Regions from separate parts of the Homo sapiens genome. Here all the other regions are linked to region 1. Evidence: fine-mapped expression QTL. A gene starts in region 1. Each other region holds a variant in brackets. All regions are shown on one strand. Distances are from middle to middle. Region 1 holds the start of LINC01269 (long intergenic non-protein coding RNA 1269). Region 2 overlaps TTC9 (tetratricopeptide repeat domain 9). Region 3 overlaps TTC9 (tetratricopeptide repeat domain 9).

The links. PIP is the estimated chance that this variant, and not a neighbour inherited with it, causes the effect. A credible set is the group of variants that fine-mapping cannot tell apart.
Region 2: its variant is the best candidate, but not a certain one, in a credible set for the expression of LINC01269 in whole blood (TOPMed, PIP 0.86).
Region 3: its variant is the best candidate, but not a certain one, in a credible set for the expression of LINC01269 in whole blood (INTERVAL, PIP 0.62).

Annotation. Positions count from the first base shown.
Region 1 is chr14:70,695,209-70,703,061 of GRCh38, reverse strand. LINC01269 (long intergenic non-protein coding RNA 1269) reads right to left here and starts at 4,364. Exons shown (of 4, transcript NR_125769.1): 1 at 4,206-4,364; 2 at 2,862-3,067. RefSeq lists enhancers at 3,647-4,146, 4,147-4,648, 4,055-5,254.
Region 2 is chr14:70,669,651-70,677,503 of GRCh38, reverse strand. It overlaps TTC9 (tetratricopeptide repeat domain 9), which reads right to left. Exons shown (of 3, transcript NM_015351.2): 3 at 2,138-6,428. The coding sequence ends at 6,349. Among named protein-coding and RNA genes, the nearest start is that of LINC01269, 25 kb to the left of the region's middle. The variant A/G (reference allele first, on the strand shown) is at 3,250.
Region 3 is chr14:70,654,308-70,662,160 of GRCh38, reverse strand. The region is part of intron 1 of TTC9 (tetratricopeptide repeat domain 9); the gene reads right to left. Among named protein-coding and RNA genes, the nearest start is that of TTC9, 16 kb to the right of the region's middle. RefSeq lists an enhancer at 7,421-7,480 and a silencer at 7,541-7,680. The variant G/A (reference allele first, on the strand shown) is at 4,862.

The sequences.
Region 1 (7,853 bases):
GTATATATTTCGCAGTCTCCTTTGTAGTTGGGTGTGATCATGTGACTAGGCTCTGGCCAATAGAATGTGAGTGGAAGTGATGTGTACAGCACCGCAATGGTACCCACATAAGGAAAGAGGCATATTCTCCCCTTCCACCCTTCTTTCCTTCTTGCTGCCTGGAAGGGCAGACATGTGGTGGTGGGAGCTGGAACAGCCATCTTAGACCATAGGATGGAAACCTTGTGTTGAGGTTGGCAGAACATGAAGCTGGAAAGAGCCTGTACACCAGACACCACGTGGGCACTCTATCAGCCAGGACTGATTTTATGTGGACTATTACTTGTTTAATCCACTATTATTTTGTTCCTTATAATAACAAGTAAATGGCTATTCTAATATATCTAGGATGGGGCTAAACCATGGTAGAATCTCCGGTTTGTACTGTACACAATGGGCCCCATCCCATTGTGCTATTATCATGTGCTAGGTATTGTGTTAGGTCTGTGTTACATATTAGAATTATTTTATCTAATTCTCCCAATGGCTCTGTAAGGTAGGCATTATTAGCCCTGTGTTAATGTTGAGGAAACTAGGCTTCAGAGAAGTTATGTCATTTACCCAAAGGAGCTCTGTCAGTAGGTGACAGAGTCAGGAGTTGAATCTAGGTCAGTGGTTCTTAACCAGAGGCAACTTTGTCACCCAGGAGACATGTGGCACTGTTGAGAAATTTTTGGTTGTCACAAGTAGGAGTGGGGAGGGATGCACTCAAGGGTAGCAGGAATGCTGCTGAACATGTAAATATGCACAGGACAGGTCTCACAGTGAGGAATTATCTGGCCCCAAATATCAACTGTGCCGAGGCTGAGAACCCTTGAGGACCCGTCTATGAAAAACTCGGGCTCCTTCCATTACACCAAATTGGGAAATGGAAGTTAAAGAGGGAGTTATGAAAAATAATAGAGAATAATGTCGTGAAAATAATATTTTAGGAAGCTAAACCTGGAGTGGTGAGAGGAATGAGCTGGAGATGGGAGAAACTGAAGCTAAGAAGACTATTATTGGAAGCCACAGACTGGTCCAGGTGAGAGGCAGGAAGGACCTGGAGGGGTGGATGGCTGAGGTCCATAAAGGGAAGACAAGTTAAGTGCCAGTGGCAAGAACTTGACTGACAGCAGGTAGAGGATGCCAGAGGCAGGGAGAAGTGAAGGCAGACAAGGCAGTGGTGATTTCTCTTCTCCATGTGCATCCCCTCTTCCTCCCCTTCCTCCTCCTCCCCTTCCTCCTCCTCCCCTTCCTCCTCCTCTTCCTCCTCCTCCTCTTCCTCCTCCTCCTCTTCCTCCTCCTTCCTCTTTCTTCTCACCCCCCTCCTCTTCCTCCTTTCCCCTCTTCCTCTTGTTCCTCCTTCTCCTCCTCATCCCCTCCTCCTCCACTTCTTCCTCCTTTTCCCCCCATCCCTCCCTCTTCCCCCTCTTTTCCCTACAGCTCCCTGCCCCATTGGCATCTGCTTCTATCTTCCTTCTCGCTAACCCCTTTGTCTAATGGGCATGCTCTGTTTTCCGCTGACCCCTAGTTCTAGGCCATGGGTCCCAACCCCAGCAAATGCATGGAAAAATCTTGGTTTCCTCAGCTTTGTTCACTGTGACAAGAAAGAGTGAGCTCCCACAGTGACAGCAACAGACTCTGACACATCTTTTCAATCTTACTTCTCTTTCCATTTCCTTTAAAACTTTTGGCCTTAAAAACTTTGACCAGTGTGTAGGATTGTTATAGAGACAGACAAGTGGTCCAGGAAAGAAACTCAGGGAATTTCCGACATGAGGGAAGAGGAAGGAAATCCTTTGTCTCACATTTGTTGTTTCCTTTGGAGTGTTTTCCAAAGGACACTGGCCTGTTGACAAGGCATCCCAAGGGCTTTGGGGCTGGCCCTTCCTTTTCCTTGTCCCTGGTCTATGTCTGTCCTTGTAGCCTGGTGCCTGCTTCAGGGCTGGGAGCTGGGGTTGCCAGATGTGCTCTGAACCCTGCTGGCAGAAGCACTTGTGTTTGGCCTCTGTCTCTGCTTCCCTGCCCTTCTCTTCCCCAGGTCCTCGGTAGCCCTGTTGAAAGGCCAGTGGCTTCTCATGCTTTCAGAAAAATTTAGACAATAAAGAGGCTGCAATGATGAGCTGATTGCTTTCAGGCTGACAGCTAAAGTCTGTGTCGGCACTGAGTCAACCATCAAGAGGGAAGGTGAGCACCTTCCAGCTAATGCTGGGTTCCCAGCTCCTCCCATTGGCTTGTGAGACGTGCTATGTCCATTTTGTCTCTTCTCTCCCTTCAGCCTGTGTGCATTCCTCTCCTCTGGGCCCACTGCTCACCTGCTCTCATTCTGTTCTTTAGTATTCTGTTCTCTCTCTCATCCCACACTATCTTCAAAGAGAGCCAGGCCTTGGAGAACGGAGGGAAGTCCAAGTTCCCCTTTGGCTTCTGACTCCCAGTGTCCCCTTTCTGTGCCCTTTGCTCACCCTCTTTCCAGGATCTGCCTCCTCCATGCTTCTCCACCCATAGCATCACTGCCTATTCCTAGGAAGGATTTGGATACCAGTCATGTGTATCTTCAGCAGCCTCATGGCATGATGTTTTGGAACACACATGCACTTGGGAACTTAGTAGCTTGGGTTGAAATCTGGGCCCTGTTCCTTACATGCAACTTTGAATATGTTAACAAAAGTCTCCATGGGCAAGTTTCCTCAATCTGTAAATTGGGGCTAACAGTATATATCATGTGATTGTGAGGATTAAATGAGTAATGTATGTAAATACTTTGGACAGTGCCTGGCACTTGAGGAGTTTTATAAAAATTAGGTATTACTACCATATGAATACAAATGAATGTGCTGTACCTCAATAAGGAGATCGGTGAGTAGGAGAGGCCCCCTTCCGTGCCATGGCAAGCTCAATCAAGGGCCACCATGGGGTGACCAGGCTGTGGGAATGGCCAGATCCATGCGTGCTGCCATCAGCATGGCCAGGTGAACGTTGGTGATGACCAGAAAAGGCTGAGCCAAATGCTCAAATCAGCACAGTGGGCTTGAGACTTTGGGAGCCACTGTGGAGAAGAAGAGCACAGTTGAGATAGGGAATGGAAGGTAGGTTCTGCACAGGCAGGCGTGATGTCATTCCTCCTGTCACTGGGCTGCAGGGTGAGCATCAAGCCAGCCATGCAGGAGAACAGAAAGTGCACCCTGCTGTAGAGGGGTGTGGGGGTGTGTGCATGGCCAAATAGAAGACGTGTTGCTTCCCTAGGAACCTGCTAGCGGACTGGTAGGAGGGACCGCAGTGTGTGAAGCACTGATTGCCAATAAAAACCATTTCGTTGTCACCTCCCTCCATATCCTGTGCCCTTGTTCTGGTCCTCAATGCAATTCATAGGCTTTTCTTTCCCCTCCCAGGAAAGGTCCCTGGGCAAAGCCTGTGACCACAGCCACACCTGTAGGTGTGTGAATTACCGTCTTCTATGTGTCTTCTTTGCTTTCTCTAAAAGGGAGGGATGGAAAGCTTTTCTTTTTAATTTTTATTTTTTTGACAGGGACTCACTCTGTCTCCTAGACTGGAGTGCAGTGGTGTCATCATAGCTCACTGCAGTCTCTGCCTCCTGGCTCAAACGATCCTCACACCTCAGCCTCCTAAGTAGTTGGCACTGATAGGTACATGACTGCCATGCCCAGCTTTTTTTTTTTTTTTGTAGAGATGAGGTTTCTCCATGTTGCCCAGGCTAGTTCTGACTTTTATGAAAGACACAGTATCATTACCCAGCAGGATGACAGATGTTAGAGATCCAGGACCTCCTCCTGGTGCTCCCTGGCTCAGTGGTGGGGCTATCTTCCCAAGGGAGAAGTGGCAGATGGCACACAGGGTTCCCCCGCTCAAGGCTTTTGGGGCACCGTTCATCCTGGGGCATCACTCACATCTGCAGTCCCAGGAGTTGCACAGGGTGCAGATTTGCCCGGGGACCCCAGCCTCAATTGGGCTCAAAGGGACTCTGCCTCAGGATCCCTTCCTCCCTGTTCTTGGCTGTCTTTTGTGAAGAGCTGTGGGTGGGGGAAGGTGACCGTGGGGACTGAGAGCAATCAAATTGAAATGCAGGGCTAAGAGAAGCCATTGCTTTGGGCAGAAAGAGAAAATTCATGGCAGAGGGAAGAGCAGGTCCCAAGCTTCCCCACCACCCCCCATGTCCCCGCTCTCACCTCAAGCTTCAGAGGGCAGGATCCTGCCTTGGAGATGATGTACCAACACAGCTACCTCCCCACCAGTTCATTAGGAAGACAAATGCCTGAGCCAAATTCCTTAGGATTTGCCAAGAACCAATTCCTTAGGATTCTTTTTCTGGCAACTTCCATAGCATTGCCAAGCTAATGGAGGGATCCCAGGGATATATCTGATGCCTGGAGCAACAGGAAATGCGGGAGCCCACAAGACGATCAGTCAGGTGTGTGCACCTAGCACAGTGGCAATGCCCAGTGTCCTGATACAGACCTTTGTAGTTCCCTTGGGCTCAGGAGGAACCATAATGCCAAATGACACAGTCACATGGAAGGGCAGGGCTGCAGCCACAGTGACTCAGCAGGAAAAGAGTTAGTTCCCCAGAAGGATCTAGCTTGAGGAATATCTGAGGCCAGAGTGTAGCGGTTGGTCTGTTTGCTTTTACATTCTGCAACCCATTTATTGATAAAACTGTTGTGTTTTTCAATGTTAAGTAAAATGCTATGCAAAAGTATCCTCAAGCCAAGTCCCCTAGCTCCAGGGGTGATTATCAAAATAATGCCAGAAATTAATGTTTTTATGCAAGGATGTCGAGGAGGTCCTGGAGTCCAGGGGAAGGGGCCTTGGGTGGTTCAGGGTAGTGCCATTTACCAGCCTGGAGGAAAAGCAGTTTAATATTTTCAACAACCTATATTGATACACATGTGTTGGCTGAATGTCAGCCCTGCCTAGCCCTCACCTCAAACTGACCCTCACCTCAAACTGAAGCTTTATTGCATAAGCATTGTGGTACTTACTCTTGCCTGAATATTGAAGAAACCCCATTCCTCATCTCCAAATCCCTCATATGGCTGTTTCTCCAATGTGAGTTTCAGAAGACTCTGAAGTGTGAGAAATCTCTCTGCTTTGACCAGTCTTTTGGGCAAGGCCTCATGTGTCAATAAGGGTGTGTCTCCTTCCTTTCCAGCTCAGTCCCAACTATTTTCTTTCATATAACACGTACTGTCCAGTGGAACTTCTTGCTCTTTCTTTTCACACACACCCTAAGCATTCATGTCTGTAAGCCTTTGCTCCTGCAGTTTCCTCTACCCGGGTGCCTTTTTCTCTTCTCTCCTTGTGTCCAACTCATGGTCATCCTTTAAGGCCTTTGCAAATGCCACCTTTTCCAGGAAAGTCTCCAACTATTCCTCTCTTCATAAATGATCTCTCTCTGTCCTGTGACATCTTAAAACAATTTTTTAAAACTTCAGTATGGCACTTTAGAATTTTGTCATCATCATTACTGACATCATCAACATCATCATTATTTGGCTGGATTCATTGAGAATCTACTATGCGCCATGAAAATATTCTGTGCTCTACAGTCTCATTTGCTTTTCTGTCTTGTAAAAATAATTATGTATGTATGTATGCATGTTTTCTTCCTTTCTAGCATACAGTAATAAAGCAAATGGAATTTGGAATCAGATTTGGGTTTGGACCCGAGTTCCATTATTTGGTTGTAGGACTTTAGGCAAATTACTCAGGCTTCCTAAACTTCAGCTTTCTTGTTGGTAAAACACTGATAATAACACTTACCTCATAAAGGGTAATTGTATTACATCAAATAATAATAATAATTGCCAGCATTTGTTCAGTGCATATTATATGCTGGGCAGTGCTCCAAGTACCAATTCTGTATTATTTAATAATTTAAATCCTCACAGTAACCCTATGAAATAACTAATAGTACCCTTACTGTACGGAGGGAGAATCTAAGGCAAAGAAGCCAGTCAGTGGAAAGCTAGAATAAGAATTTTGACTTTAGAATCCTCACTTTTTTTTTTTTTTTTAACTGAGTCTCACTCTATTGCCCAGGCTGGAGTGCAGTGGCACTACCTCAGCTCACTGCAACCTCTGCCTCCCAGGTTCAAGCAATTCTCCTGCCTCAGCCTCCCGAGTAGCTGGGACTACAGGCACCCGCCACCATGCCTGGCTAATTTTTGTAGAGATGGGGTTTCACCATTTGGCCAGGCTGGTCTCAAACTCCTGACCTCAAGTGATCTGCCCACCTCGGCTTCCCAAAGTGCTGGAATTAGAGGCGTGAGCCACCACGCCTGGCCAGAATCCTCCCTTTTAATCATTACCAACAAATGCCTCTGTAGGGTGGATGATACCTGGCCTGGGCTGGATATTGTCTGGACGGTACGTAGCCCAGTATCTGGCAAGTATTTCAAAATTGGCAGCTGTAATTCTTATTCCCATTCTTACTGCTCAGGGCTGGGGTCTATCCTGTGCATCTCTGTTTCTCCACAGCACCTCATAACACTAAGAGCTTGCATTTGTTTAGCATTTTCCATGTGCCAGGGACTGTGCTAAGCCTCTAGCCCTAGCAAATGAATAAATGAGTGATTGAATAAATGAATGAATGAAAAGATTAGACAAAAGCTCTTGAACAGTGGGCAAAGACTATCTGAAAAGAGGATTCATCCCTTCCAGTTTACTTGCCAGGCAAAAAGATGAAGGGATGGAGGAGAGGCCTCCCAGGGACCTGAATAACTCCCAGTATTCATCAGTATTTTCATTAACGACTTGAAAGATGGAGTGCAGAGTATGCTAATCAAATTGGTGAAGCCTGCGAGGCAGAATAGAAGCTGAGCACTTATGAGGGAAGCTGGAGCTTGCAGACAGTACTTGACAAATTGGAGAAATAAACAGAGTTAATAAACAGAGCTTCAGGAGCTGCAGACTTCAAGTGGCTCCAAGGGATCAGCTGTCACTAATGGATTTGCCCAGAGAGATCTTTGACCCTCTTTTCCTTGGTCTTTGCCTGGCTTGACTGCATCTTTGGAGCAAGCCTGCCTGAGGGGTACACAGTTTCCTTGATGAGGGGACTTATTTGGGCCTGGAAGCCTGATGGGCAAAGTCCCCACTTCAAAAGCTAAGCTGTCCCCACACTTCTTCCTGGCCTGTGACTTGCTCACCTAACCCATCTGCCTGGCTGTGTCTCCATGGAGAGAAGGGGCTGGCTCCACCTGCTCCCCAAAAGAATCAAGACTCAGTAAAACCATAAACTGACCCCACATTGCCTGATCCCTACCCACCAAAATGGTGCTGCCCTTCTCTACTTCCTATACATTCCTGTCGTCAACTTCTTTTCCCATTTGAGGCTGCCCTGGAGGTGATTCTGACCTTGGCTTTTCTTGGGAAAATGTACTGGCGTGAAAGGAGGGGAAATGAGACAGTGCGATCTGCTGGGGAAGCTCCACCTCTGCCCTGCCAACCTCTAGGAAGAAGACAAAGTCTGAGTGGTTTGGCAGTTATAGGAATGTGCAGGCGTTAGAGTCCCAGCTTCATCCTTCTTAAGTTACGTGGTGTTAGGTAAGTTTTTTTAGCTTCTCTGAGTCAAGCTCTTTTGGTTACAAACAATTGAAAGACACTTGGTTTATCTTTTTTTTTTTTTTTTTTTTTTTTGAGACGGAGTCTCGTTCTGTCGCCCAGGCTGGAGTGCAATGGCGCAATCTTGGCTCACTGCAGCCTCTGCCTCCTGGGTTCAAGCAATTCTCCTGCCTCAGCCTCCCGAGTAGCTGGAACTACAGGTGTGCACCGCCACATCTGGCTAATTTTTTGTATTTTTTGTAGAGACGGGGTTT
Region 2 (7,853 bases), 26 kb after region 1:
GACCTCACAGCCAGTCTTGTCTTTCCTGCCCTGAGGCATGTGATGAGGATACCAAGGGCACTGGAAGGGGAGTGGGCAATGGCTGTTCTATTTCCCGGCAATTGCCGTCTCCTTGCAGCTCAGAGGCTGCTGGCCTCTGGGTGGACTGTTAGGAAGAAAACAGCGTTTATCGTTGGATGTGACTGGAAGACAGCTGATTCCGAGAACCATCAGAATTATTCCAACTGATTGCTGTGGAGTCTCTTTGAAGCCTGGAGAGGCATGGGTTGGAGTATGAAGCTTCCTCTGTCTTTCTACTCCCCACCTCCAAGTACTTGTCCTGCTTGAGCAGAGAGTAACCCAAGGGCCTCTTGGAAGGTTCCCTTCCTTCTACAGTGCAGAGAGGGGGAATGTGGAAGGTGAACGTGCAAGTATTAGCAGCCACACTATAAACAAGGAAACTGAGGCCAGGGAGGGTGGGGGAAGGAAATAAATGTTTTTTCTGTGCTTATTCTGTGCCAGCCACTGAGCTGGGAGATACTTATTTCTTAGTCCTCCCCACACCCTTTTAAGGGATAAAACATTTTCCCCCAGCCTGGCCAAATTGGTGAAAGCCTCTCTCTACTAAAAATACAAAAATTAGCTGGGCATGGTAGTGTGTGCCTGTAATCCCAGCTACTCGGGAGGCTGAGGCAGGAGAATTGCTTGAACCTGGGAGGCGGAGGTTGCGGTGAACGGAGACCGTGCCACCACACTCCACCCTGGGCGACAGAGCAAGACTCCATCTTGGAACACAAAACAAAACATTCTCCCCATGTATGGGCGAGGAAAATGAGGGTCAGAAAAGTTAAACAACTGCACCAGGGTCACACAGCTAGCAGATGTTAAAGCTGGTATTCAAACAAAACTCCGTCTATCCACTGTAAAATGTCACATGGTTTGAAATAGTGGAGCGGCGTGCTCTCAAGTTTGCTGGGCCTCAGCAGTGGCCCCTTAACCTGGCTGGTTACCTCATGGCATTCAAAAAACTATCCTGAACACTATTCCTGTGAATCTGATTCAATGGGTCTAAGGTAGAGCCTGAGATTATGTATTTTTAAAAAGCTCTTCCTAGTGATTCTGATATCTTGGAAAGCACAGGGCTGCAGCACGTGGCTTCTCTTCTGACCCAAGTCTCTTAGGAGATCTTCATTTCTCAGAAGCACAGATCTAGTTCAGCCCTGCATTTACCTCCAGTAACATTTGCCACTGAACCCATTATTCCTTCATTCCAGGCTGAATGCTCAACGTTTTCTGAGTACCTACAATGTGCCAGGCATGGTGCTCAACATTCTGGCTGCAAAGATGAATATACCACAGTGCCTGCCTTGAGGGACACCCAGGGCGTGCGGGAGATGAATGTAAACTAGAAACTCTAATTTGTTGTAGCAAAAGCTAGGCTGAGGTAGGCTTGTGTTGCTTTAAGAATTCAGACTAAAGGACCAAGGAAGGCTTTCTAGCAGTGATCCTGAATGAAGGCCTATAGGAGTTAGCAAGGTAGAGAGGACTGAAGGGCTAAGGAATAGCCGATGAGGCAGAGGGAAGGAATAGCGTGGAAAGGCCCAGAGACCCAGCACAATGGCTCAGGGCGGCAAAAGAAGCTGCACAGCAGTGGAATGTAGGATACTTTGGGAAGAGGACCAGGAAGTGAGGCTGGAAAGATCAGTGGAGACAAAATATGAAAGACCGTGTGTGTTGTTAAGGAGTTTGGACTTTATCCTAGAAGTGACGAGGCGCTACTAAAGATTTTATTTTTCCTGAGACAGAGTCTCACTCTGTTGCCCAGGCTGGAGTGGAGTGGCGTGATCTCGGCTCACTGCAACCTCTGATGCCCAGGTTCAAGTGATTCTCCTGCCTCAGCCTCCTGAGTAGCTGGGATTACAGGTGCCTGCCACCGCACCCAGCTGATTTTTTTGTGGGTGTGTATTTTAGAAGAGATGGGGTTTCACCATCTTGGCCAGGCTGGTCTTGAACTCCTGACCTTGTGATCCACCCACCTTGGCCTCCCAAAGTGCTGAAGTTGTGGAGTGACATGGTCAAACTGTGTTTTGGAAGGGTCACTCTGATAGAAATAAGAGAATGAACTGTAGGCAGGAGAAGCTGGCAACAGAGGAACGAATTAATTGCAGAATTAAGAATTTATGTATGTCAAAAAGCACCATAAACAAAATTTGAAAGCAAAGCACTTGGAAAGCATATTTGCAGCATTTCTTGACAAAAATAATATTCTTAATAAAATTACAAATTGATAATAAACATACCAATATCAAATAAATAGAAAATTCACAAAGAAAGAAGTACAAATGGTCAATAAGCATATGAAAATGTTATTCGCGAAGAATCAAAGAAAGTTAAAATAACATTGACATACTATTATCCCAGCTACCAAATTGGGAAAGATTTGATAAGTGATGATACCTAGTGTTAGGGTGCAGGAAACAGGGTACTCTCTAGGATCCAAATAGGAGAGCGTTTTGGTACAAACTTTCTGGAGGGTGGTTGGCAACATGTATCAAAATTCTTAAAAATAGCCAAGCAAGTCTCTTCTTGGAGTTTATCCTAAGGAAATCGTTATAGACATGTGCAAAATTTAGCTACAAGAATGTCAGTTGCAACACTATTTACAATGAAGATTGGGAACAAATGAAATAATCACTATTTGAGGATTGATGATAAAAAAAGGGTCCATCCATACAATGAAGATGCTGTTGAGAAAGTTTGATATGCCGAAAATGTTCGTGATATTATTAAGTGAAGGAACAGAAGGAGCAAAAAACAAAAAGTGTCCAATATGCTGCCATTTGTGTGTGATAAAAGAATATATACATATGTTTGACAATGTGTAAGCATCTCCACTAGGATGCAAAATAAATTAGAGGGAAACTAGATGCTGGCAGACGGGGTAGGGAGAAGATTTACTTCTGACTACAGAGCAGTTTGTACTTTTTGAATTTTGTATCTGTGTAGGATTACATATTCTAAAATATAAATACACACTTGAAAAGTTATTAAAGAGTATATTCAGTGTATCCAGTTTTTGTTTAAAAAAATCCACAACTGTGTGTGCGTGTGTACATTTACACCAAAAAGAACTAAAAGGTATATTCAAAAGAATACACGTTTGTCTTGGGTGGTAAGCTTATGGATTGGATTTTGTCCTTTTTTTCCTAAAACTTCTACAATACACACATGATGCTTTCACAATAATTAAAAAGCGTTAGTTTTTCCCCC[A/G]AAGAGTCCATCGCAAAAGTCCAGGCAGGGGATGACAGTGCAGGTCAGATGCCTGATTAGTACTCCAGCTACATAGGTCAGCAGTGACATCCGCAACGTACGGAATTAAATCACAGTTCTTGTTTTGGGGAGGGATGAGGAGAAGGAAGCTGAAGATTTGGTAGGGAGAATGAACCTGGTTTTGTGCTCTAAAGCCTTTGTTGGACAAATGCACAGAAAATTCAGCCCTATCACCCCAAACATCAACCAATACCCCAGGTAGCTTTTTCTCTTTGGGATTATTTAACTTCAGGTCACAGTGAATGGAGTTCCAGTAAGCCTGTATATCTAAGTCACCAAACAAGCAGATGACCTGGACGCTTGTTCTATGAGGTTCTGAGAGGCTGTCTTCATTTCGTTCTGGTTTTTGATCTTTCTACATGGGATGGCTACAATCATATCCTGGATTGTCCAGCCCTGCCCCAGCACACTCATGTAAACAAGACCTCTCTCCTGTCTCTGCATAGGGAATAATTACTCGGAGTCCTTCCTGACGCACAAAGACCAAGGGAAGACCCTGGCAGTTTGAACTCATTCTCCAGGTGACCTCTACCCTTCTCTTCATCCTTCAGATCCTAACAAACCATCTGCCAAATCACAAACGTTCTAAGTTGGAGGCTTGGGAATGGGGGTGGGGGTGGGGGTCGGGGCGTTTGAACACATTCCCGTGTGGGGCCATAGGGTAGTTTTGGGTTAGGGTCATGTAAAGCCAGCTAGGAGGAAGAGGAAAGACAGCATAATATAGTAGGGATTGGGGAGAATGTGGCAGCTGAAATAGCTTCTTCCTTTTCCTCTTCTCCAGAGAGTGAGCTCTAGGTGAGTAATGGCAGGCCCCTCAATATTTCTAGCACCTTCCTGTAGCCCCCGTTGAAAGCCTTTGGGGAACTATGTGAATATAACTTACGCTGCTCTCTTCTGGGCCCCTCGGCTGTGATTGGATCCTGCCGTGGTGGGGCATCTGCTTACATAATTAACCCATATTTAACTTTGTGTTTCCTTTCGGTCTTAATTGTGACCCTTTCCCAATGCTGGGGATGGGTGATGAATGCTAGGTGAGTTGTTGAGATACATGCTGGCTCCATCAGTAAGTAGAATGAGCAATACACAGACATAACTATTGGACCTCAGCTGCCTTTTTCTGACCTGTCACTGCTCTGACTACTAGGGATTCTGGCCTCTGGTCTTTTGGGGCCCTTGAGTAAATACATAAGGAGGCCATGTACTATCACTGACATCATGAACACTTTTCAGGTTAATACATATTGTCCTGTTCTCAAATGGTTATAATTGCCCAATATTATACTTACAGAGAGGCAACTAAGTATAGCATAGATACTAGCCAGAGCTCTGGAGTCAGGCAGGCCTGGTTCAAATCCTAGCTATGCCACTAAAGGCCATGCAACCTTGGGATAATTAATTTTTCTGGTTTTCAATATTCTTACCCATCAAATGGGAACAGTATCCCAGAGTAACTGCATGAAAGAAATGAGATTATACATGTAAAGATCTGAAGATAATGCATTTAATAAATCCTAACTATTCACATTATTGCATCTGTATATATTTTAATTTTGTACAACATTGTCTTTTTCACTAGTCACACGAAAAATACATGAAAGTGCTCTGATAATTTTAAAGCATCATATAAATTAACGGTGTCATTGGTAATAATCTCATATGCATTTCTTAACCCTTCCATTTCCTTGAAGACTGAGACGACATCCCATGTCCCACAGCATATTGCACAATGATGGGCAAACAATATGCCCTCAGTAAGTGTTTCTTGTTTGACTGAAGCAACATGGCATAGCATAACGAGCACAGACATCAGGAGACTAGGCTGGGATGAAATTAGTTTAAGGCAGGAGAGCCAGTCTGCAGTCATAATTTATTCATTCAACAAGCATTTGTTGAACACATTCTATGTGCTAGATGTTGAGTTCAGATAATTTCATCAAAAGAAGATTGTACAAGTTCTGACAAAGCCAAGCCCCTGGGCAGTCTCCACAATCCCAGCCCACTCTTAAAAGCACAAAGGCTGTAGCCACCATTGTCTGCCACTGGACAAACGGCCAATTGCTTTGGGGAAAGCCCCATCCTGCCTGGCTGTAAGTAGCTCTGATTGAGGGTTGGAGGAAGGAGTAAAAGTGAGGGAGTGGGCTGCTTCCAACAGAACTGACAGGAACTACTACCTGTTAATTTGTTTTTATTTACACTGAATCAGTCCACAGTTCAATCCCCTAGCCTATACGATGCTCTTTCCCCTGGCCATCATCTTTCCCTCCCTGTCACCTACACAGTCAACCTGTCCCAAACCTTGGCCCACTTCATCCTGCCCTTCTGCGGTCACAGCTGCCTGCTGGGTGGGAGTCCGGGGGAATGGTATGTGTGGTCACCAGAGGGCACTGAGTGGGCTTCAGTGGCATGTGAATCCTGGCAGAGTCTCGGATCCCCGATGGGGAGAGGAGAAAGCACAAGCCAAGACAACGAGTGGGGGAAGGAGGCAGGGGCTAAGTGACGGGTGGGGGGTGGGGGTGGGAACTCCAGTGTACACATTGACAGTCTCTATGTTGGCTTCACCAGCGCTTCTCTGTTTGTCTCGTCCCTGGATTTCTAACAGTTGCCTCGAGATGCTCTGGTTCTGGTCTGTCAGGAAAGTGTGGAAGGATCCAGCCCATGGGCTGTGTGCCTGCTGCCTGTGGGATGGTACACTTGCCAGGCTCCGCCTCTGTCAGAAGCACTGGCCAAAGTCAAAGCCACAACAGCATCCCAGCCCATGAGACTCCTCTCCAGCTGTCCCAGCAGAAGTCAGGCCCCTCTCAGTCGCTGACCTGCTAGAGGAGAGGATGTCTCCATTGTCTGGGCGACCTACCAGATTCCAAATTTGCATCTCTCCTTTTCGTACTGGGAGGAGACAAAGAGCTGGGGTGCAACAGGAGGAAAAATGAGGAGCCAGAAGAAGTGGGGAGAAAGGGACAGAATCCAGGACGGGGCTCTCTGCCAGGGGATGCCTGGAAGTCCCCGGTCAGGCGTGGGCGCAGCTCTGGAGCTGCTTCCTGGTTACATGGCTTCTTTTTCTCTCTGGGAGCATCGGCTGAGTTTCATCTCCGTCAGCTGGATATACCGAATCACGTTGGTGTCTGTGAGGAGAGAAATAAACCTTAGGGAACACCAGGTGAGGGCAACTATCACATTTACAAGGAATTAGCAAAGGCTGTGTCTGCAGACATCCAACAGGCCAGGCTCACTCAACCAAGGTCCCTTCTGCCTATCCATGGTGGCTGAGAGGGCAACTAGATGTCGACCCTCTCCTTCACTGTCTCCCCTTAGCAAATGTGGACAGGTTGGCATGACCCAGGGGATGTGAGAGAGAATGGGTGGGAGAGGAGAGAGAATTTCTCTCCCTCTTTCTATGCAGCAGCGTATCCCAGTGGTTTCCCAGCCGGCGCAGTTAGTTTAGTGAGACCCCAGTTGGAGTTTAACATCAGGCAAGTTGCCAACTTCTCTGAGCCTCCTGTACCATCTGCAAGAAACAACCTCTATTTTTTTTTGTTTGTTTGTTTTTTGAGATGGAGCCTTGTCCTGTTCGCCCAGGCTGGAGTGTAGTGGTGCAATCTTGGTTTGCTGCAAACTCCACCTCTCAAGTTCAAGCAATTCTCCTGCCTCAGTAGCTGGGATTACAGACACATCCCACTGCGCCCAGCTAATTCTTGTATTTTTAGTAGAGACGGGGTTTCATCATATTGGCCAGGCTCGTTTCAAACTCCTGACTTTAGGTGATCTGCCCACCTTGGCCTCCCAAAGTGCTGGGATCAGAGGCGTGAGTGAGCCACCGCGCCCAGCCAACAAGCTCCATTTTTGAATGCCAACCTTGTGCCAGGTTTCTAACCTTCATGATCTCATTTAATCCTCAATACAATCCCGCAAGGTATGTATCCTTCTCCTCACTGTGACAAAATGGAATAGGGACCTAGCGAGATTGAGTCAGATGCCAAGGAGACACATAGTAAATGGTGTGTCTGGCTGCAAAGCCTGTCTCTCCTGAGGACTGTAATACCTGCCTCATGAAATTGCTCTGAAGCCCAAAATAGGTAAGTCTAAAAGTGCTTAAAACAATGATCAACAAATATTAGTCTAATGTAATTTTTTTAAGCTTGAAGAGTTTAAAATGACTTTGCTTTATTGTCTTATTTTTGTCGTTATAAGCAGGGTCAGATGACCACCTCACCAAAACTGGGGCATTTCTTCCCAGTTCCTGTTATTAGTGAGGATGGCATGGCAGGGAACAACTGCTAAGTTCCACACACACCATAACATAAGAGTGACAGGGCTGCCTGGAATAGTTACTTCTGGAAGTAGAAATGAATACTATATCATGCTAAAAAATGCCAGGCGTATCCTCCAGAACCGTGCTGGCAGATAGCAGTGCTCCAGAAAATTCTATTGAATGAGTCCAATGGTTAGTCTTCAAGCTGCTTACAGTTGGTGGAACACGATTTATGTACGGAAAATAAATCAACAACAAGGTGTTCTTTAAAAAGATAAAAAAAGTATACATTTGGACA
Region 3 (7,853 bases), 41 kb after region 1:
GAGCTCTCAGACAACCATATCTAGAGGCTCCATTGAAAGAAATATTATTAACTTTCTGGCCTTTGGGTCTTCTGAAAAGGCTGAATAAATGCAGTGGCCTGGAATCAGCCAAATTGTGGAGAATGAAGACAAGCCTCTATCAAGGCGTGGGAAGAAGTGCTAGAGGAGAAACAGCCTTCCTTGAGCCAAACAGGGTGATAGCAGAGGTGGCCAGTGAACTTACAAGAGAAAGGCAAATCTGGGGGACAAGAATTGAAGCTGCAAATCTCCAACCACCCCTCCCAAGTACAGATTCCTCCACTGCCAGCCTTAGGCGGTTAGGGTGTGATCTTACGAAAAGAATTGGCAGGCCTTCTGAGGCCCACAGAGGGGTCGTGTTTAGCAAATAGAGAATCAGCTACTCAAAGAGCCCCCGCGACACTCATGCACACAGACGGAAAATCCTAAGTGTGATGTTCCCCCCAGCAACCACGCTGAGACCTCAGGCTAAAGCATGTTGAGTTCTCCTCACTCTGGCACCTGTTTTGTTTTTGTGTTTCCTGGTGCATGCAGGGCAAAACGCCACCCACTGGCATGAGATAAAGGGAAACCAGATGAAAGGAAGAACAAGTTCATGCAATCACTGGTTTTCTTCTTATAGCTAACTCACTATAGTTTGCTTTTACCTGCTGAACAGAAGGGAAACATGGGCTAAATGGAAGGAAGACCAGACCCATCTGGGGCCAGCAGCGAGAAGGAAGAACCTACTCTACAAGGCTGCCTCACTGTTTGGGGTTGCACCGTATCCATTTGTACAGGATACGTTACAGTCCTCACCCTCAGTACCTAAGAATGTCACTTTATTTGGAGACAGGGTCTTTGCAGAGATGATCAAGTTAAAATGAAATAGTTAGAATGGGCCCTAATCCAATTTGACTAGTGTCCTTATAAAAAGGAGAAATTTGGACACAGAGACAGATACAGAGTGGAAAGATGATGCAATAAGATCTAGGAAGACGGCTATCTACAAAGCCAGTGAGTGCCTGGGGCTACCAGAAGTTAGGAGAGAGGCTTGGAACAGATTCTTCCTCACAGCCCTCAGAGGGAACCAACCCTGCCGACACCTTGATGTTTCACTTCTAGCCTCTAGAATGACAAGACAATGAATTTCTGTTATTTTAAGTCACCCAGTGTGTGATATTACAGCAGCCTTAGGAAACTAATATACCTTGCTAGTCACTGCTTTGTGAGATGGGCCCAGGAAATGGCCATTGGGTTCCTAGGGGAAAATTTTCCCAAAAGTTTGCCAAATTATTTGATTTGCTTTCAAATTTATTTCAAGAAGCAATGACATAGTAGTAAAGTGGAAGAAGTTTGGGATCTGGACAGAGCTGATATTAAGAATATTGAATGACTGGTATAGATCATAACCAAACCAAATAGGCAAACAGTATTGTACCAGCTCTGGGTGCCCTGGCTGAAGACTAATGCTGGGTCTAGAGATGCAGTCTTGAGCTGGAATCTGAGCTCTGCCACTCACTAGCACAGGCCCGAGGGCGAGTTATATGATCACCCTGGGTCTTATTCTTCCCATGTTAAATAGGAACTTTGGGGGAACGCTTATGATGATGAAATGAGATAATTAATGCACATTACATGCTTCTCACAGTGCTGGGACAAAAATGGATTCTCATAAATACTAGTTCTTTAGAAAGTCACTTATCAAATATGGTTTGCCCAGCAATGTGTACATGAATTGGAGAAAATTTCCATCTTGAGTCCTATATACAATATGTGGTACATAAACAAAGCTACAGCGTAATTTAAAGTAGATTTTCTATCTAAAGTAGATTTTCACCCACTACCCACAAGGGCAGACAGGTATCAGATGGCCAAGTCCTAGAGCTGGAAATCTGCACATGTGTGCAAATAATTGTTCTCTGTTACGCTGTCAACTTGTGACATTTGGATACTTCTCTTGTTAGTGATTTGAAATATTCCCCTGGAGAATAAGAACCCCGGCCAAGGAGATGGGGAAAAGGAGCAGAAGGATGAGGTGCTGCATGATGCACTCAAGAGAATATGGCCCTGCACCAGTGGACAGTATCCATCCATCCTCCCAGAAAGGGAATAAGAGGAAGAGCAGGTCATCTTTATTTAGCATGAATGGGCCAGGCACTGCTCTGAGCATTAACTCATTTAATCTTGACAGCAATCTATTCTAGCTTCTAGTATTTTGCCCATTTTTTTCAGATAGGAAAATGGAGGCCCTAGGAAGTCAAGTCACTTGCCCAAAGTCACAATGCTAGTAAGTGTCAGAGCCAGGATTTGAATTTAGGTCATCTGGCACCTGAGACTGTGCTTTTAACCATCACACACACTGCCCTCCTAGGATGCTTACCTGCCTGTAATGATTCTAACTCAATTCCTTCATTAGACATATTTGAGGCATGGGTACTGCTTCCTGTAGGGCTTAAGTGTGAGACCCTAATTGTGCTAAACTGTTCTCACTTTATACGTAAATACTCATCCGGAAACTTCCTATGTAACCCTCCAGAACCTTCTCTCCCACTAGTTCCTTTACATTCAGAGAGAAAAACAAAAAACAAGCAAACAAAACCAACTGCAAAGTTTCCCCTCCTCCTGCTGCGGCTGCTTTTTTTCCTAAGTTCTAAAACCACCAGCATCTCCAATTCCATTCAGAGTCTACTGTTATCCTAACAGGGCTGACATGACACGTTTCTGGTTTCTTCCTGAAACAACACCTATCTTTGCTTAGCTAGTGCTTGCAAAACTAACCCCCCAATTATTATTTTTTACTTGAAACTTTTATTGTGATAATTGTAGATTCACCTACCGTTGTAAGAAATACTACAAAGAGACCTCCCATACCCTTTACCCATTTTCCCTTAGCGCTAATATCTTGTAAAATGATAGTACAACATATTGGCTATGATATTGACACTGATAGAATCCACAGATCTTATTCAGGTTTCCCTAGCTTTACTTGTACCCAGTATGTGTGTGTGTGTGTGTGTGTGTGTGTGTGCGTGTGTGTGTGTTTAGTTATATACAGTTTTATCGTGTGTAGGTTCCTCTATCATCTCCTTCCTGTCCCACCACTTCCTCTTTAACCCCTGACAACTGCTAACCTGTTCTCTATTTTTAAAATTTTGTCATTTTGAAAATATTATATAAATGGAATCACATAGCATGAAATCCTTTGGAAGGCGCTTTTTACACTCAGCATAATTTCCTTGCAATGCATCCAAGTTGTTAAATGCACCAATAGTTCATCCTTTTTTAATTGCTCTGTAGTATTGCATGGTATGGATGTACTACAGTTTGTTTACCCATTCATCTGCTGAAAGATATCTGCGCTGTTTCCAGTATTTGATTATTACGAATAAAGTTGATAGGAATAGTCAGGTATAGCTTTTATTTCTCTAAGATAAGAGCTCAAGAGTGCAATTCCTGGATCATAAGAGAAAGAATTTCATTTCTTGTCATCAACTATGATGTTGGCTTCAGTTTTTTTTTGCAGATGCTTTTAACTGAGATCAGGCAATTTTGCTCTATTTCTAACTTGCTAAGAAATTATTATTTTTTAAATATCTGTGAAATTATAGCACATCCTTGCCTAATGGTAATGCTTTGCAGAACCTGTTAGGGGGTCTCTCTAATGAGTCAGATCTACAGGTACAATCATCAAATGTGCCCTTTAGTTTTACAAAGAATAAAATTATTTTTCATAGCTACATTCTCAAATCAGGATCATTACTGTTCTTTATGAAATGCGTCTCCCTTGCTCTTTCAGACAAACATCTCTAGAACATCTTTAAATTCTCACACAGCACCTACCACAGTGGTTATGCCCAACTGGCAGCAAGACCTAACATATATACGGTGTTTTACAACTCATTTAACTTTCATGGAGACTCCGGGAAATAGCTATTATTAGCTCTGCTTCCAGGAGCTGAGGCTTGGGGAAGTTAAGTGACCCGCTGAGCCCACTTAGCTCTTATGGGGAAAGAGCTAGTGTTTACTTAACCCCAAATCCCATATTGGTTCCAATCCAACAGAGCTGGTGGTAATGGTGGAAACCCGGACTGGCTGATCTCTGAAGGTCTTTATCAAGTCTGAGGACTGAGAACTCTGGCTCAGAGAGTTAGCACCCTCCAAGTGGCTGTTTCTTTGTTTGTTTGTTTGTTTGTTTGAGATGGAGTCTCGCTCTGTCGCCCAAGCTGGAGTGCAGTGGCACTATCTCAGCTCACTGCAACCTCTGCCTCCTGGGTTCAAGCAATTCTCCTGCCTCAGCCTCCCAAGTAGCTGGGATTACAGGTGCCTGCCACCAGGTCTGGCTAATTTTTGTATTTTTAGTAGAGATGGGGTTTCACCATGTTACCCAGGCTGGTCTTGAACTCCTGACCTCAGGTGATCTGCCCGCCTCGGCCTCCCAAAGCACTGGGATTACAGGTGTGAGCCACCGTGTCTGGCCCACAAGTAGCCGTTTCTTTGTTCACTCCAATACCTATTTCTCCTGCCTGCTGCCCAGAGAGTCTCCCACTACTGCTGCTGCTATTTCTACTGCCAGGAGCTGTTTGGCTTTATCTAGGGGGCTAAATCTCCTTTGATTCCATTCACATTAATTTCTGACCTTCCACTTTTCCATTCTAGTATGTGCTTGCACTAGATTCAAACAAACACTGTCAAGTGTGTCTTTTGTTTTCTTTGTTTTAGCAACACTGTCTTTGGAGATCTCTCCTTTTCATCATAACCAAGCTGCTCCCTTGAATCCCTCTGATTCTTCACATGGATGCCCCACCTTTGGGATCACTACCAGAGCTGCTGCTTCCCACGCATCATCACTACACAATTTCGG[G/A]TAGGCACTCTTAGTAAACTTAGTCAATAAGGATTCACTCATCGTGGCCTGTGCCCAGGGCTTCATAAGGAATATGGAAAGCATTCAAGAGATATTGATATCTTCAAGGAGTTTATATTCTTTTTAATTACCCTCTGTTGGCAAAAATAGCTGTCAAAGTGGCAGGTAAAAGAACTGCATGGAAAGTCAGTATAAAATCCTGTAAGCTGAAAGCTTACATTGACAGTCCTTTAAAGCATATAGGAATCTGCCCAAGGGAGTTGTAATGCCAAAGCTTAAGGTCAGCTCAGCCCTTTGGCACCAATCTGGGTGCTATGGCAGAACACTTAGAAGTTATCCCACCTATGGCCCCTTACTCTCACCCTTGACTTTGGTGTAGTAGACAGAGAGGGAGAAGGCAGTAGTGAAAAGTTGGTAGGACAGAGCTGTTGTTTGCTGGAATCTTCATTAACACCCCTTCCTCAGTCTGGAAGCGGGACTTTGGAGTGGCCAGATTGGCCATTTGGAATGTGAAGATGAGTGTATTCCCAGAAATATTCAGAAGAAACCCATCGCCCCATATTATCTTTTCCTTCTCAGCTCTGGCCAAGTACACACGTCACGTTCATTGGCAGAAACTCTAAGCCAGAATGGGAAGACCTTAGAAGCCAGAGTTCTATCCTGTTCTCTTTTTGGACATTAAAGAACGTCTCCCATTTCAATCCCCTCTCCTGCCCCAGAGACATGTTCCCTGTTCCTATTGCCTCTCCCACCATCTTTCCCTCATGTCCTCAGATGTGTTTGGGGATAGGATAATTAACAGGCACATGTATAGCGGAAAGAGCACGTCTTTGGCAGCATTGTGCTGTAATCACAGAATGCTGGAAATAACCTAAGTATCCATCAGTAGATTAGTTAAATAAATAATGGGACATTGGTGCAATGGAACATTACACAGCCATTACAATCATGCTGTGGAACGGTGAAAAATATTTTCAATGAAAACACTGGTGGAAAAACATGAAGGTTGCTAAAGTTTGTACAGTATAAACCTGAATGTTGTGAAAAATAAATGTGTGTGTGTGTGTGTGTGTGTGTGTGTGTGTGTGTATCAGGGTGAAGAATTATTTTTTCTTTTAAAAGTTCTGCTCCTTCTGTATGGGTGAAGAATTTGTAATATCTATAGCAGAGTTTAAAGGAATAAATTATCTTTTTGGAGGAGACTGGCTTCATCAACTGCTTCAGGTGGGGAAGGTGAAGCTTAGAGGTCAGTAGCAGGCACACACGTAGATGAAAAGATGCCCAGACTGCTTTGTATATGAAATGAAGGGAATCTGAGAGTGGGGAAACCTAAGAAGCTGAGAGGAGCTGGCGGGGAGAAAGAGTCCAAGCAGCATGGCGGGGAGCTGGAACCTGCCAAAAAATGTGAGTGGTCCATTTGAAATTCCTGGTGGTCTGATGGCCAAATGAGTTTTAGGAGGAAGAATTTCTACTATTCAATTTTTGAGATGTAAACTCCTTCTGCATCTCATAACCTTCAGTAAAGTCTAGTGAAATTATACATCTGGGTGTAGTGGTGCTGTGGAATGTGAAAAGGAAGTAGCAGCAACAGGAAGTCGAGTGGCCCCTTGGTTGTCATGCAAACAGAGTGAGCAGCATCCTGTGGGAGGGGAGGGGAGAAAAGACAGGAGGTCCCTGCAGTGGCCCCAGCCCACGTGAGAACAACCCCTTGTTTCCTAAATACACTGGGAAAGGTAGACCTGAAGGGGGTTGGCTGATGTTTGTTTTACATATAAATGATCATACACCCACACGGAAGAAAAACGGCAAGGAAATAAACCAAAACGGTTAACTGTTGTCATCTTGGGGTGGTAAATGACAGAGTTTTACCTTCTTCTTTGTTTTTTTTTTTTTGTTTCTTGAGATGGAGTCTCGCTCTGTCGCCCAAGCGACGCTTGGAGAGCAGTGGCGCGATCTCGGCTCACTGCAACCTCCGCCTCCCAGGTTCAGGCGAGTCTCCTGCCTCAGCCTCCCGAGTAGCTAGGACTACAGGTGCACGCCACTGCGCCTGGCTAATTTTTGTATTTTTAGTAGAGACAGGGTTTCCCCATGTTGGCCAGGCTGTTCTCAAACACCCAACCTCAGGTGATCCACCCACCTCGGCCTCCCAAAGTGCTGGGATTACAGGCGGGAGCCACTGAGCCTGGGCTGCTTCTTTGTAATTTCTTATATTTTCAATGCTAAATTAAATTTAGCCTAAAGCTGCCTCCTTACATAGTCTAAGTTTGGCCTAAAGGTTTCTTTGTACATAAGGAACCATAGTAAACTGAAAACTAGCTGGATGTGTAAACAGTCTGCAACCTACTCTTATGCCAATCAACTGAGTTTTAGCCAATCAAAGGCAACCAAGTGTTCAAACTGAGTTCAAATAAGGCAAATGCAGAGCTGTTAAGTATCAGCTGTTTCTGTACCTCGCTTCCATTTTTTTGTACGGTGGCTTTCCTTTTTCTGTTTCGTAAATCTTCTTCCACCATGTGGCTGCACTGAAGTCTCTCTGAGCCTATTCGGGCTTGGGAGGCTGCCCGATTCACGAGTCATTCTTTGCTCAATTAAACTCTGCTAAATTTAATTTGTCTGAGGTTTTTCTTTTAGTATCAATAACTTCTGCAACTATGATGCTTTACTTTTGTAATTAGAATTTTTTTTTTTTTTTTTTTTTTTTTTTTTTTTTTTGAGACAGAGCCTTACTGTTGCCCAGGCTGGAGTGCAGTAGTGCAATCTCGGCTCACTGCAACCTCCGCCCCCAGGTTCAAGCAACTCTTCTGCCTCAGCCTCCTGAGTAGCTGGGACTACAAGCATATACCGCCACGCCCGGCTAATTTTTGTATTTTTAGTAGAGACAGGGTTTCACCATGTTGGCCAGGCTGGTCTCAAACTCCTGACCTCAGGTGGTTCACCCACTTTGGCCTCCCAAACTGCTGGGATTACAGGCATAAGCCACCACTCCCGGGCA